2 linked regions of the Homo sapiens genome follow. The main gene of each other region encodes a partner of the protein of the gene in region 2 in a complex. Each region holds a gene or a part of one and is shown on either strand. Other genes may lie near its edges.

Region 1 (7,535 bases), on a different chromosome or scaffold from region 2:
ACACCTGGCTAATTTTGCATTTTTACTAGAGATGGGGTTTCACCATGGTGGTCAGGCTGGTCTCGAACTCCTGACCTCAGGTGATCTGCCCACCTCGGCCTCCCAAAGTACTGGGATTACAGGCGTGAGCCACAGCACCCAGCGCTCTCTCTTTTTTAAGAGCGGCCTCGTGTTAGTAAGGCTCAGGAAAACATAAGCATTAACCAAAGTAGGAAGGCCAGACAATGAAGGAAGCAAAGAAAATAAATTTTTAAAACGAATTTCTTCATTCAACAAATTCATGAGTCTCTATTATGTACCAGGCATTGTTCTAAGGGCTGGGGATACTGAAGTCAACAAAACAAGACAAAATAGTATTCCCATTGGAAATATCCTCACAATTTGCAAGAGACAAAGAAAAATGCTGTGCTCAGCTAGGAAGCCATGGGGTTCTTACATCTTTGGGTCCTGATACACCCAAGAGAAAAACAAACCCCATTCATCTAACAAAATGGTAGGCCTTCTGCTAACCCTCACACATAGGCTGCATTTTTAACCACTGCCTCTAAACTAGTTTCTAACGACAGTTTCCTCTGCTCAAATTTGCTTCCCCCATTCCAAAAGTCTGCCACTCCAGGCACAATGCTGCTGAGTAGGCAGACTCTTCCAATGCTTATCAACACACTAGAGGCCAAGCATGCTCAATGTGACAGTTGAGAGCAATGTAAACCCACGAGCTCTCCCACTCCTGTCCCATCAAAATACTCTTCCAGGGACTGCCCATCTTCTTGCTTGACTTATAGAACTGGGACTGGAGAAAAATAAAACGCCAGATGCCTCTAGTCACCATAGTTTTTTATTTTTTGAAACGGAGTCTCCCTCTGTTGCCCAGGCTGGAGTGCAGTGGCGCGATCTCCCTCACTGCAATCTCTGCCTCCCTGGGTTCAAGTGATTCTCCTGTCTCAGCCTCCAGAGTGGCTGGGACTACAGGTGTGCACCATCACCATGCCTGGCTACTTTTTGCATTTTAATAGAGATGGGGTTTCTCCATGTTGCCCGGGCTGGTCTCAAACTCCTGACCTCAAGTGATCTGCCTGCCTCGGCCTCCCAAAATGCTGGGATTACAGGCCTGAGCCACTGTGCCCGGTCAATAGTTTGTATTTTAATCTCAAAGCTGTATCCTAGGAAAACCTCCATTCTGCCTACCATCCCGGACTCTGGCTCTGGAGATGAGTGGTATGCCCTTTTCTTAAGGTAAAGCCTCTAATTCCCCATCTACCTACTGAGATCAGATGTGGTAATCTCTAAAAGACTGAATTTGGCCTGACCATGGGCCAACAGCAGTTCTGGACACTCTTTGGGGCAATCCTCCATTGTCTTCTGTATAAGTCAATCCCTTTCCAGAACTGCACAGGGGACTCCACGGGACTTGGAAGGGTTTCAGCTAAGAGTCATCAAGGTGACCAAGAGGTTAGAAACAGCTGATGATGCCAGGTTCCAAGAATTTTAGATTTTTACTTTTGAAAATAAGAGGCTGACTGCATATAAACCAAAAGAATACTTTCAGAATAAGTGACTCTTTTAAATAAGCAACTGAGTAATACTTTATCCGAATTCAGAAACTTGAGAAAAAGGAACACACCTCAAAAAACTAATCTCTTCAAGGAAGGAAGGTAATTTGCATAGAGTTTCCTTGGGCTGGCTGTGTTTTTTTTTTTTTTTTTTTTTTTTTTTTTGCCTCTAAAAGCTCTCTATTCTAAATTGAATGGGCTGAGGTAGCCAAGTTTTATCTAACGCTTTCCTAAGGATGGAGGTGGGGTCAGAAAGCCCCAGAGCCCGGGTAATTTCTCAATATAGCTGGTTGGGGAAAGGAGTGCGCGCACGTTTGTGTTTTTGAAGAGTTAGTGCAACTCTAAACTGCACACCACGAAACCTGGAAATCTGGAAAGGCGCACAAAACACGAACTGAGATTCCAACTTTAGCAAGAACCTAAAATGTTAAAGAAAAATTCCTTTCTCCCCACCCACGAGTCATAACATTAAGGAAAACTGGCTCAAACTTTCTAGTATGAACAACAGGCCTAAAGTAAGAAGACCAGAAGCGAAAGGTAGGGCTCGCCCTCTCCCTAACAGTCCTTCACGACTCAGGTCACACACAGAGGATGCCCACCTCCGGCCCCGCCGACCCGGCTCCAAAAAGGCGGCTGTGAGCTTCCCTGAGCTCGGCGGGCCTTCCCCGACCCCGGGCTCCGCCTCGGTGGCAGAGCTCCTGAGGCCTTCACATGGCGCAAAGTCCACGCCCACCGGGCCCGGCTGGGGCCTCGGGCTCGCGGGGCCTGCTCTCTCCGGGGACCAAAGGCTTTCGGCGGGTGGTAGGCCGGACGGCAGACTGGCGCCCCAAAGCCCCGGGGCGCCGCGCCGGCGGAGTGGGCCGGAAGACCTGGCCAGGCCCAGACGTCCGTTCTAAGGGAGCCAATCGGGCGGGCCGGGGCCTGCATGACACAGCACGATCCGGCCCAGGCTCCGACCCGGACCCAACGCAAGCCCCGCCTAGGGGGCGCGCGGGTGCGCAGCTGGCCCCAGCCGGGCCTGCCGGGTCCACGGCCCCTCACTCGCCCCCTAGCTTCCCTTCCCTCTTTCCTGGTCTCCACCTCTCTGACGCGCCCACGGCCAGGCCCCGCCGGGCCTACCCTGCGCGGCTGGTCCCGGTGCGCGCCGCCGCAGCAAGCGAACGGCGCGCGCACACTCACTCGGCTCCAGAAGCCATGGCGCGCGCCTCTCCCGGCCGGCGGCTGTGGCGGCCCGCGGGTAACGGCTACGAGCGGTGGCAAGCGACCGACTGGGCCGGGGCTCGGCTCTTCCAGGCGGTGGGCGAGCAGCGGCGACAAACCCGCAAGCGGCTTCCCTCTCGCTTCCTCCCACCGGCAGCGAGGCGTCGGGCGAACAACGCTGGCTCCTGATCCGCGAGGTGGCAGTGGCAGTGGCAGCGGCAGCGGCAGCGACGACTCAAACGACGGTCGCAGACGCTTCGCTGAGACTGAGCCGAGAAGAGCCGAATCATCGGAAGGGAAGCTGCTCCCACCTCAGCCAATCAGCGCCTGCCCTGCGGACTCTCGCCCGCCTCTCCGCGCCTCTCCCCAGCAACCCGCAGATCACAGCCAATCAGGAAATTCGCTTGCGGCCTGGCTCCCGCCTCAGTGATGCGACACGCCTAGTAACGCCACGTCAATTGGCCGCAACGCTACGCTTCCTCGACGGATTGGAATTCTCAGCCAATCAACGAAAGGAATAGGGCGAGATCGATTAGTGAAAGGAGACCCTTTAATCCCTTAGAGGCGGACTCTCCCACTTGGCTCCAGTTCATTGGCTCCGGAGTTTATCCTCCTGGAAGAACGTGGCACAATAGACTGAACCCTTGTATTAGTCTAGTCCTATTGTGGTAACCCATACACCCATCTTCTCCCAAAACCTGGAGATCTTCTAAGACGCCATCACCACCCTGACACTTCTTGCTCCTTCTCAACGCTGCCTCCAACCACCCCTACTCTGAACTTTCTGACTAGCACCCCACTCCTACCCCATTGTCACTGCACCCTCTGGTAACCCCAATCCCACAGCCTTTGCAGTTTCTCAGCGCTTGTGCCTTTCTTCCTCCCGTCATTAATATTAATACCTTATAATAAGGCACTCAAATCCAGAGAAGTCAAAGGGCAACCACAGAACACACAGCCAATTCAGTAGAACCCAAATTAGCAAGAAAACTGCATATGCTGGGACTTGAAAATCCTTGGGCCCCAAATAACAGGGGTCCCTGTTAGTAGTCAACAGGCAGCTGTTGGTGATATGCTGACTCAATTCACCTTTCACCCTGTACCCACACAGACACATTTGACTAAGACGAGTCGAATTTCTAGAATTTGGAATTAGGAAGGGAGTGAAGAGTTACTCTGAGAGAAACCTGCCTGTCTCTAAGTAACAGGTACCTGCCCTTGTCCTGAGAGGCCTATCTAGACCACCCTTCAGACCCAACTCCACTCATTGTCACTGTCCTGGGCTTTGGGGCTCTGCATTCAGGCAATGTGAAGGACTAAAGCCACTGCCTCCAAAGTGAGGATTCCTGTAGCCCTTTCCTCATACCCAGACTTCAAGTTCATAAGGTAGACGATGTCAGGAAAGGGCATCATAGACAACTAGCACTCAACTAGACGGTCACAAGCCTTCCCACGCAAGTATATGTAGTAGGCAGACGAGATAAATATGAAATTTTACTCGACAACAGAAAAGGAGAAACAGGAAAAAAGGTGCCTCGAGCAAAGTCAATGACTTGGTGGTGGCAGAGATTGTTTCCTCCAAAACGAGAATGGTAGTAACTAGGGCAAATTTCACAGGCCTACCACCAATCTCACCAGTCCAGGAATTATATAGGAATGGTCACATTCCTAATGATGGTGAAGCAGAAAGCCCTCCCCACAGAGAGACAGCCCACTGGGGACCCAGCTCAAGCTCTTCAAAACGTGGCAGCTACAGGTCACAAGACTTTGGCAGAGATGTCCGAAATTCTTCAAGGAAGGCGTCACGATCAGAGGGACGGATCCAGCTCAAATAGCTTTCTAGGTACAGGGGGAGAGACCTGGAGAGAAAGAAGGATGATGCCTAAGGGTGAAAGATTGGCAGAAAGCTGGGCAGCCATACCCCCGCTTTCAGTGTTCACCACCCACAATAGGTCCAAGGACTCTAGGACACCAACTGCCCCTCAGCCCCAAGCCAGCAGGCCTGAGCCTCACCACAGAGCATCTTCATGTGACCCCTTAGTTTGGGCCTCCAGCCTCCACCAGAGTGCAGTGGCCTCATCCCTCCGATCTAGCCTCTTCAGAGTCTGAAGCAGGTGAAAGTAAGTGTCTCGATTACCTGTAGCCCCAGCCCAGAGTACAGAGTCTTAGAACTTGACATAGTCTTAGGCATTGTTTTATAAAAAGGGAAACTGAGGCCTAGAGAGAGGAAGTATCTTGCCTACACTCACATATGGAAGCGGGGGCAGATCATTCACAACCATTCCCATCCCAGTGTCCATCATCTGCCCCCTACTCCTGTGCAACCCACAACAGCAGAGTCATGGTCTTTGTGTCTGAGGATATCGGGGAAACCAGGGAACTCTTGGGAGCCCTGCATACACACTGTGTATATTTGAACACCTGGATATATCCCTAGGTATATATAGCACAACCCCAATCACCCCTCCTGTCTGAGAACACCACTCTTACACTTACGCCCAAGTATTTCCCATGGGCCTCTCTGTCCTTGCACATCTATGCATAGCCGACGTCATGCAAGTATACATACCTGGGCACATCTGCACACTGAGGAGGAAGTCCTGTAAGGCTTTGGTATCCTGGCCGCTGGCTACCCATTCCAGTCCACGACTAATTAGGGCGGCTGCCCGAAGCTGCTGCAGTGCCGCATCTGACTTACATCCCTGCTCACAGTTGAAAGCTGCCCCTGGGGACCACTCCCAAAGTCAAGAAGTGTCTTCCCAGCCTCACAGTCACCAAAACCCCAAATCCTCCTCTATTTCTTCTTGTGTCCACAGTCCCTTTCTCTTAAGTCTCCTGGTGGGCTGGGACACATTAAAGGGAACCCACTTCCACCACTACCACTTCCAGGAGGTAAGAGGAAAACTGAAAGTTTAGATCACCTTGTTCTTTTTCCTCAGGTGTGGCCCGGAAGAGCAGCTCGAGGCACCTGAAGTAGGACACAGAACAGGGGTGAAGAGGAATCAATTTCAGAAACTCTAGGGTAAGTAGGTGAACATGGAGCTCACCAACTCAGGTCCCAATCAGAAAATCATCCCTCCACACCCCCTCTAGGACCCCGGGCTCACCTGCTAAATTCACTAATTGCCACTTTTTGGGCACCCAGTTGAACCCAGGCCTGGCCCTGAAGCAGGTGGGTGGCAGAGACCCAGAGTGGGCAGTATGGCAGTTCCTTGGTTCCTTTTCTGGCATCTTCCCACAGCCGGGACATCTTGGGTAGCAGAGATGATGTGCGGCTGAGCAACTCCTCACATAGAGTCAAGGCATCTTGGGCTCTGCCTGCCTGGATCAGTGCTACCGCTGCCTCCAAAAACACCTCAGGCATACAGGGCCCTGGAGGGGAGGGGGGTGGGGAGAACTGGAGTGGGAAGAAGAAGCAGTGTCTTGAAAGGCATGAGCCACCATCCCCAACCTCTTCACCAGGCTCTGGTACCATGCAGAGTCCTGGGCCCCCAGACTGGACAGACAGAATAGAGGAAAAAACAAAAAATTGCAGTCTTGCTGTATTTCAAAGGGGACACCAACCCGTCTACCCCATTGCAGAGAAGCTTGAAGACACACCCACCCTTGGCTCCGAGCTATCCAGCAACAGGGCCAGCAGGTCCAAGTAATGCTCTGCAGCGTCTCCTGCCCTGAGGAGTAAAAGCCCATAAGCCTCACCCTAGGCCCTAGCAGGGAACCTGCAAGGGTCCTGAGAATGTTCTCTCTTAGCTAACAGATGGATGTTCATGGGCCCTGAGGAGGAGAAAGGGAGGGAAGGTCTTAGGGCTCCAATTTTGGCTCAGTATGGATCTACCCCAGTTACAGAATGGACTGGGGAAGAGACTTCAGAGTGTCAAAGATAGAGAAGGTTAATGTCTTAGAGAAGAGTCCTCAGTTCAGGTCTAGAAGCAAGGTAAGAGGCTGAGGAGTGGCGACCTATGTCCTGCCACTGCCTCATTCATCCCCCAAGTCACAAGAACAAAAGCAGAGTCACACCCCAGGGGAGGCATCAGAAGTGGGAAGAGAAGCTCAGGTGAGCAAGGGGAACCTCACCTCCCCGTCTGTAGGCACCTGCTTGCTAGTATGTGCTTGGTCTGGCTCTGAGTGCCACAATGAAGGGGTGAGGCTAGGTCAGGTGGTGGCAGTAGTAATTCTACCTCAATGAGAAACTGCGGGGCTTTGGAACTGCATGGGACATTCAAGGCCTAAAAGAGAAAGAAAAAAATTGTATCTATAATCTTTGGGAGCCATACTTCCTTATACTTGGATCTTGACTAGTCAAGTCACCCCATCACAAGCACCTCAGGAATCCTCCACCCCACATCTTCACCTGGCAGTTCCCTACCTCAACTAGCAGCTCCAGACTCTCCAGCTCTGCTGTTGTGTCCCCCAGTTGCTGATAGAGCCTAGAGGCCTCCAGAAGTGGAGGACCCCAGGCTGATCCCTCTTTCAGGGCTGCAACCAAGTACAACAGTGCTCTCTGTGGATTTCCCTAAAGGGATAGGAGGACACGGGCCTCAGCTACCCTTACAAAGCAAAAAGCTATACATAATGCTTGTGGTTTCCCCAATCCACCCTAGGACTGTCTTTACCATCTTACGGTGACAGGACCCCAGTGCTGTGTACACCTGGACCAACACAGGCCGTGGACACAGGCCTGAGGCCGCTTCATGAAGGCTGCTTAGTGCCTTGTCTGGGTTCCCTGTGATCAGCTCCTGGAGACCTGAGGACAGTCAGGGTGTGAGCTTGGAGAGGGCTATAGAG
Region 2 (7,018 bases):
TCTTTGGAGCCTTGTGAACAAAGGACTGACAGATTGCCCCGACTATTCTGTGGAGTGGACTTTGTGTGTGTATGGAGGGGGTTGAAGGAGGAAGGGCTAGGTGATGAGATCAGAGAGATGAATCCAGTTAGGAGGCCAGAGAGATGGTGGTTTGGATCAGTGTGGCTGTGAAGATAGAGAAAAGGGCATAGACTTGGCAGAGGGGACGAGATTACAGCCGAATGGATATAAAGAGTGAATGGGTGAAGCGAGCAGGACTGAAAGATACTACTGTTTTCACAGGAGCAGCTGAGTGGATGGCGGAGCCCTTGACTGAGATGGGGAATGGTCAGGGATACCTGGGTTGGGAGTGGGGGCTGGTATGGATGAAGAGTTAGGTTTTGGCTGTGCTAAGTCTTGAGATGCTTTTCAGGCATCCATGTGGCGAGGCCAAGGGAGCAGTTGGATATAAAAACATGACTCTGGAGTGCAGCTGGAATTGCATACTGTTCTGTGTTTATTACTTTACTAAATATTTGTTGGCTGAGAGAATGTTGTGTACTTTGTCCCTGGTGGCTTGTTGGGTAATGTGTGGTCATGGGGAGCAATGGTGGCATATTAATGTGTGAGAAGGACCTGGTCAAAACCGGCTTGTTGTCCCTGTTAGCAAAATCCTCACTTGTGTAGTGACACTAGTGACTACACGATGTAAATAAGCACATTGTAAAGAAGCAATGTAAATAAGCCTAACAGGCTGCGGGTGTATAAGGTTAAAAGTGGTGAACTGATTAAAAAGAGTAATCGTTCTTGTCACATCTTCCACAATTTTGTCATCTTCCCTGTATTATTTCTTCTCAGCTGCCAGCAGGAGGCAGGACAGTGTACTGCCCAGGTGTGAAAAGACCAACAGCTGTACCTTGTCTTTTCTTCCTGTTACTCTGATTCTTGCCTATTTTGGACACATGTAACTTTCAGACCCACCTGGAGGAACTCATTTGCAAATGAAGCAGTCAAGGAAAAACTGCATTTGAGAGGCTGCTGTGCACGGACAGTGTGCGGTGTGCTTTAGCAGAGTTCTGCTAGAAAGTTCCTTTTTTCCTTAGAAGCTGAATCTTTCACAACTTACAAAAATGGGGGAGTGATTGATTTAGAATTGTGTGCTCATGTTGGAAGTGACAAGTTATTTTTCCTCCTCAGCTCTAGATTCTTGTGTGTAGCTTGTTGGTTTAGAACGCTGAGGTTTATAATGTTATTTCTTTAGTTTGGATAGGTTGAAACAGGTGTGTGTTAAGACTCATTATACTGTTGTCTACGATTTCTCCCTATTCTGAGTCCCTCAGATTTATGTTCATCAATCAAATAGTTCACAATAATGAAATGTCTTCATATTAATCGTTGATTAACTACACAAGAGGTGGCAATTCCTGCTGCCTTTGTGTTTTCTAAGGTTATGTCTCCCAGGGCCGCCTGCATGGCTATATTTCTTCATTTCTTTGGACAAAATAACATCACCCTGTTACAACTTCCCTGAGGTCATGTCACTGAACTCTGACAGTCATCCTGAGATAAGTGTTACCCCCATTTTGTAGACAGCTTCAGTTTCAGTTTCTATTTCGTTGAGTCAAGGATAGTTCTAAGCTGTTTTGTTTAACTCCTTTGCATAATATCTACGAAAAAAATAAGTATGTAGCAAAACATTTTTGAAGGTGATTTCTTCCAAATCAATCATAGCAAATTGTTTTTCCTTTTCTATTCGAGTAGAAAGGCTGTTAGATTTCAAGTAGTTGAATCATGGTCTCAAGGCCTGGCTCAGTCCCCTGCTAGTTGTGTACCCTTAGGCAAGTTATTTATCCTGTCTGAGCCTCAATTTCTTTAGGATCTGAGGATAATATCATAGCATATTAACTTTGTTCTAAGACTCCATTGATTATACGATGCACCATCAATTTAATGCAACTTTTTTGGGGGACAGGGGAGTAGAAATTACATTCAACGAGTGTATTGATTGTAAGACACTCTAATTTCAGAAACACAGGAACGAGTACCTTCAAATTGAGGAAATATGTTATCTACTTCTTGCCTCTAGTATGTAGAACACATAGAAAAATGTTTGTAATACCCAATAAGTAGCCTGATAAATAAGCTATTCAAAAATAGTTGCCTCCTACGTGGTTGGTATGGGAAAAAAAATAGTTGCCAATTTTTATTTATCAGCCAATACTTTATGCCTTATTTCCTTCTCTCCTGGACAGTAAGATTCTAATTTTAATTAGTAATTGCAATTGAAATGTAACTGCTGGATGATTATTCTGCTTTGTCTTCTTAAAAGCATCCTGACTTGAAATGGGAAGATGTGAACTCTTGATTTCTCTAATTTATTTCCAGGAATAAGAAATGGTACCAACCAATTCTGTGACTCAGCCTTGTGCTTATATTTGCCAAGCTTTTGCTTATATATCACATTTAACCTGATGACAGCAACCTTAGGAGACTGATTTAAGGGTGTATTGGGGAAGAGAGACGTTTCAACATAGCAGGGAGGAGAATGAACTTGGACTATAGGCTGAGCATAGAAGTTCTATATCCATCAAGGTTTGGCTATAGAACTCTAGTGGCAAGTGTTCTGGTACGTAATTTAAGATCTTTCCTTAGTAGTCCTGTCCATGTTGAACAGTTCTGCTGTGTTCTGTAATAATGTTGCCCATTAGATTGTGGCTTTTTAAAAAACTTTTTATTGAGTTACAATATACAAGCAGGAAAGTGTATGTATAATAAGTTTATAGCTTGAGTTTTTAAAAATTCAAAACATGTATACAGCCAGCATTCAGATCAAGAAACAGAATCTCTAAAAGCTTTCTCCTGCTTCCTTCTGGTCACTGTCCTCTCTAAGGGTGACTATGCTCTTGATTTTTAATACCATGTATTGTTGTTGCCAGTTTTTATGCTTTTTATAGGTGGAATTATGAAGTATGTTCTCTTTTGTGTCTACCTGCTTTTATCAACATTATGAGAGTCACCCATATTGTTGCATGTGGTTATAGGTTGCTCATTATGGGACCATACCACAATTTATTTACTCATTCAGCTATTAATGGACCTTTTGGGCAGTTTCCAGTTTGGCTATTATGAATGGTGCTGCTATGAACATTCTAATACATGTCTTGGTGAACATATGTACTTCTTGGTGAGGAGAAATAGTAATTTCTGTTGCCTATATATCTAGGAGTAGATTTGATGGCTTCTAATTGCTCTTTTTAAAGATTAAGTGCCTTTCATTTGTTTAAATGAATGGAAGGGGCCTTTTCTTGCCTACCCGTTGTGTCTCCCCACCCAGCAAAAAAGGCCACAGTTTACTAAACTAGCATTTGTCACACAGGTGCTCATCATCTTTCTTGCTTGGTGACTGATATATACTTAAGTCCGAATCAAGTGATCCTTATTATTTCAGACAAATCCTCACTTTTCATACTTTAAAAAAAAAAACACTAGATTCTGGATGGCAAATTATTTCAGTAGCAGATTGTTTAGAAGATTTTAGCTAAAGGATGGCTGCAACCTACACTCTGAAGTTGTTGGACTAATAACTGAGGAACAATGTCTTATGTCTTCTTTAAGGGTGTATATAGCAGTGAGCACATGGGCTACATGTCCTTGTTAAGTGAGGAACTCTAATTAGGGCCCAGCTTTCCTCCTGAAAAAACTGGGATCATTATGGGCCTGGCCTTGAGGTTGCTGTGGACTTAAAATGAGATACTCCCCCACGAGTCCTCTCAGTAAGTGTGAGGCAGGCAGTCCTCTGTCTGCAAGTCGTGGCTCTTTGTGCTGCAGTTGGCTGCCTCTTAGGCTTTCCAGGGTTGAAAATGGGCCTCTTCACTCCTGGCACTGAACGTAAAGCCAGTTCCTTCTCCTTACTGTTTACATATCAGGTCGAGGAAAAAATGGGATTTAGTTGGATACTTACAATGGGGATTTCCGAAATATGTTACACTGTGTCCTTCTAAAGAGATAAGCTGTCTTCTGGTGTTTTCAGATTATAATTTTAAAGTAACACAAAAATAATATTAAGTCTTTTAGATCAATGAAAGCAAGTATAACTCAAGGGTAGGCTTAATGAACAGGGAAAAGAAGTGAGATATTTTGACAGACACTGATTTCCAAAGAACAGGTGCAAACAGTGACTAAAAATAGTCTTATGTCATCAGCATTAGAGAAAATGTAGTCAGACAAAAACAAGGTTTCTTTTCCAAAACCAGGCCTTGAGTAACTTATAGGAATATGGGGGTAGTTGAAATATGAATTTATAAAAACTGGTTAGCGGGTGTTTCCGAAAAGATTGTGATAATACAATTAACACACCCACACATATTAATTCTTTTTGCATAGTATCTTTTTAATTCACTTTCTTAATTCCAACCTTTTACAAATCCTGTAAGATAAGGAAGGCAGAAGTCATAGGATAATGTCATTGGGTAGATGATGAAGCCAATTTGACGTCCATACTTTTCCAAGGGTCCAGGGCTACCTAGAGGGTTTGCTTCTGGTCTTTACTCCCAGTCCTTTTCTTAAGCACAGAGAATTAATTAGTAGGTTTACTCTGAGTCTATTTCAGGATTACACAAGTGTCTGTAGTAGTGAACACTTACACTAATTGTAATTGTACCTCATAATACTGACGCCATTTGTGAGAGGGATTGTAAAAATAGGGGCTTAGTATCACAAACTCTGGAGTCAGACTGTCTGGGATAAAATTCTAGCTTCACCACTTACTGGCTGATACTTAACCTTTTCTCATCCTGTTTCCTCATCTATGAAATCCGTCTCCTGAATCAGTGCGTGTAAATAAGCTGAGTAGCACATTAATTTATTGATTTCTTTAAAAAAATTAACTATGGAAATTGAGGCTCGGAAGTGGTGACTTATAAGCAAAAACTTAAACCCAGGTCTTCTCAAGTCATCTCCAGTTCCCTTTCCACTAAACTATCCTGTTTCTGTGATAAAGTTGTGAATGAATCAAACCAAATGTTAAACTATTTTATTTTTCTGGTTTAATACACGTTTCTTGGAAAGTCACTTTTTTGGTATGCACATTGCATTTCCCTCTACAAGGAATTAAGCTCTGAGGGTTACATTCCTGTACTTGGAGAATGGAACTGGCCAGTCTGTATGTGGCCAGTCCCCGTGACTGACGTCCTCCATTCCAGCCACACTTGAATTGTTAGCAGTACCCATTCAGTTATTGTGCTCTTGCAATTCTTGGGGCCTTTGTAACAAGTCCACATGTCCCCTCCCTTGTGCCAACCCTTTCTTCCTTTGACAGCCTTCCCCACTACTCTGAGGAATTCAGGGGCCATGTCTTTTGTGCTTGGTACATGCTAGTGTGCAATGAGATAGACACATATCTCTCACACCAAAAGCCAGCATTTTGCTGCCATTTCCAAAAGTTTAGGAAGGCCATCTGCTTCAATCACTATTTAGCATTGTTCTGGTGGGGGTGCCAGCCAGTGAATTAGACAAGAATGAAATAAGATACAAAAGTTTATTTACAGCTAGGGTTGTATGCTTGGAAAGCCCAAGAAGCTCAATTTTCTTTTTTGTTAAGACATAGTTTCGCTCTTGTTGCCCAGGCTGGAGTGCAGTGTTGTGATCTCGGCTCACTGCAACCTCTGCCTCCTGGATTCAAGCGATTCTCCTGCCTCAGCCTCCCGAGTAGCTGGGATTACAGGCATGTGCCACCACGCCCGGCTAATTTTGTGTTTTTAGTAGAGACAAGGTTTCTCCACCTTGGTCAGCCTGGTCTCGAACTCCCGACCTCAGGTGATCTGCCCACCTCGGCCTCCCAAAGTGCTGGGATTACAGGCATGAGCCACTACTCCCGGCCGAAGCTCAATTTTCAATATTGTAGGCAGTAAGATACTCAGCTTTTGTGGTTAAGTATAAAAAGGTAGAAAGAGATAGCTCTATAGACAACTCTAAAAGCTATGAAAAACTTCTTGGCTGGGAATTATATCAATATCACATGGATATAATAAAAGAATGGTTCTAATTCATTTAGAAAAATAAAATATTGAGACTAACCAAGAAAATTGTGACAATTGTTGAAGAAAAAAAGGGGGAGATATTATTTAGCTGTTTAACTTTACCAGCTATTAAAATATGTTATAAAAGGAATAGAAACTAGGCTAGGCCCAGTGGCTCATGCCTATAATTTCAGCACTTTGGGAGGCTGAGGTGGGAGCATCATTTGAGGCTGGTAGTTTGAGAGCAGTCTGGACAACATAGGAAGAGCCCGTCTCAAAAAACAAACAAACAAAATTACCAGGTGTGATGGTACATGCCTGTAGTCCTAGCCACTTGGGAGGCTGAGTGGAGAATTGCTTGAACCCAGAAATTTGAGGTTACAGTGAGCTGTGGTCAAAACACTGCGCTCCAGCCTGAGCAACAGACTGAGACCTTGTCTCAAAAAAAAAAAAAAAAAAGAAAATAGAAATTAAAATAACTTGATATTGGCATAGGAACCAATTCCAAACAGAATGGTGTTAAAATAGACCTACATGTAAAAGAGACTAGAGTATAAACGTTCAATGAAAGTAGTTTTTCAAATAATTGGAAAAAATGTGGGTTACTCTGTAAATGGGGTTGGGAAAACTGGGTGACTATTTAGAAAAACAGTTGGATCTCTTCCTCATTCCTTGGATGCACCTTGAAAGTGCTAAAATAAAACCATGAACACTTACATTCTTGGAGCGAAAAGACTTTCTAAACATGACACATCATGGATACATATGCCTACATTTAATTAAACTTTTGTATGTCAAAATATGGCAAAAACACCATGAAAGTCTAATGACATCAGAAAATGCTTGCAATGATGAGAAAGAGAAATTTCATAATGTATGAGGAAATGCAGCCAGGTGCGATGGCTCATGCCTGTAATCCCAGCACTTTGGGAGGCCAGGACAGGTGGATTGCTTGAGCTCAGGAATTTGAGACCAGCCTGGGCAACATCAGGAGACCCTGTATCTACAAAAAATATAAAAAT

The links.
Region 1: the proteins of DERL1 (region 2) and VCP are in contact, whole or in part, in a cryo-EM structure (PDB 7Y59), measured with the Homo sapiens proteins. Residues at the interface, in NP_077271.1 of Homo sapiens: His240, Trp242, Gly243, Gln244, Gly245, Phe246, Arg247, Leu248, Gly249, Asp250; in NP_009057.1 of Homo sapiens: Arg113, Ile114, His115, Phe131, Leu135, Lys136, Phe139, Leu140, Val166, Glu167, Thr168, Asp169, Val176, Ala177, Pro178, Asp179, Thr180, Val181, Ile182, His183, Cys184, Glu185.

The regions. Positions count from the first base shown.
Region 1 is NC_000009.12:35,069,608-35,077,142, forward strand, and holds the start of VCP (transitional endoplasmic reticulum ATPase), read right to left. Parts: upstream 3,019-7,535; 5' UTR 2,747-3,018; coding exon 2,730-2,746; exon of another isoform or gene 2,150-2,729; intron 1-2,149. Other genes in the region: FANCG (Fanconi anemia group G protein), read right to left, coding at 4,501-4,609, 4,764-4,887, 5,320-5,475, 5,672-5,718, 5,858-6,147, 6,355-6,421, 6,825-6,976, 7,117-7,263 and 1 more. UniProt on the Homo sapiens protein: Necessary for the fragmentation of Golgi stacks during mitosis and for their reassembly after mitosis. Involved in the formation of the transitional endoplasmic reticulum (tER).
Region 2 is NC_000008.11:123,032,301-123,039,318, reverse strand, and holds part of DERL1 (derlin-1), read left to right. Parts: intron 1-7,018. UniProt on the Homo sapiens protein: Functional component of endoplasmic reticulum-associated degradation (ERAD) for misfolded lumenal proteins. Forms homotetramers which encircle a large channel traversing the endoplasmic reticulum (ER) membrane.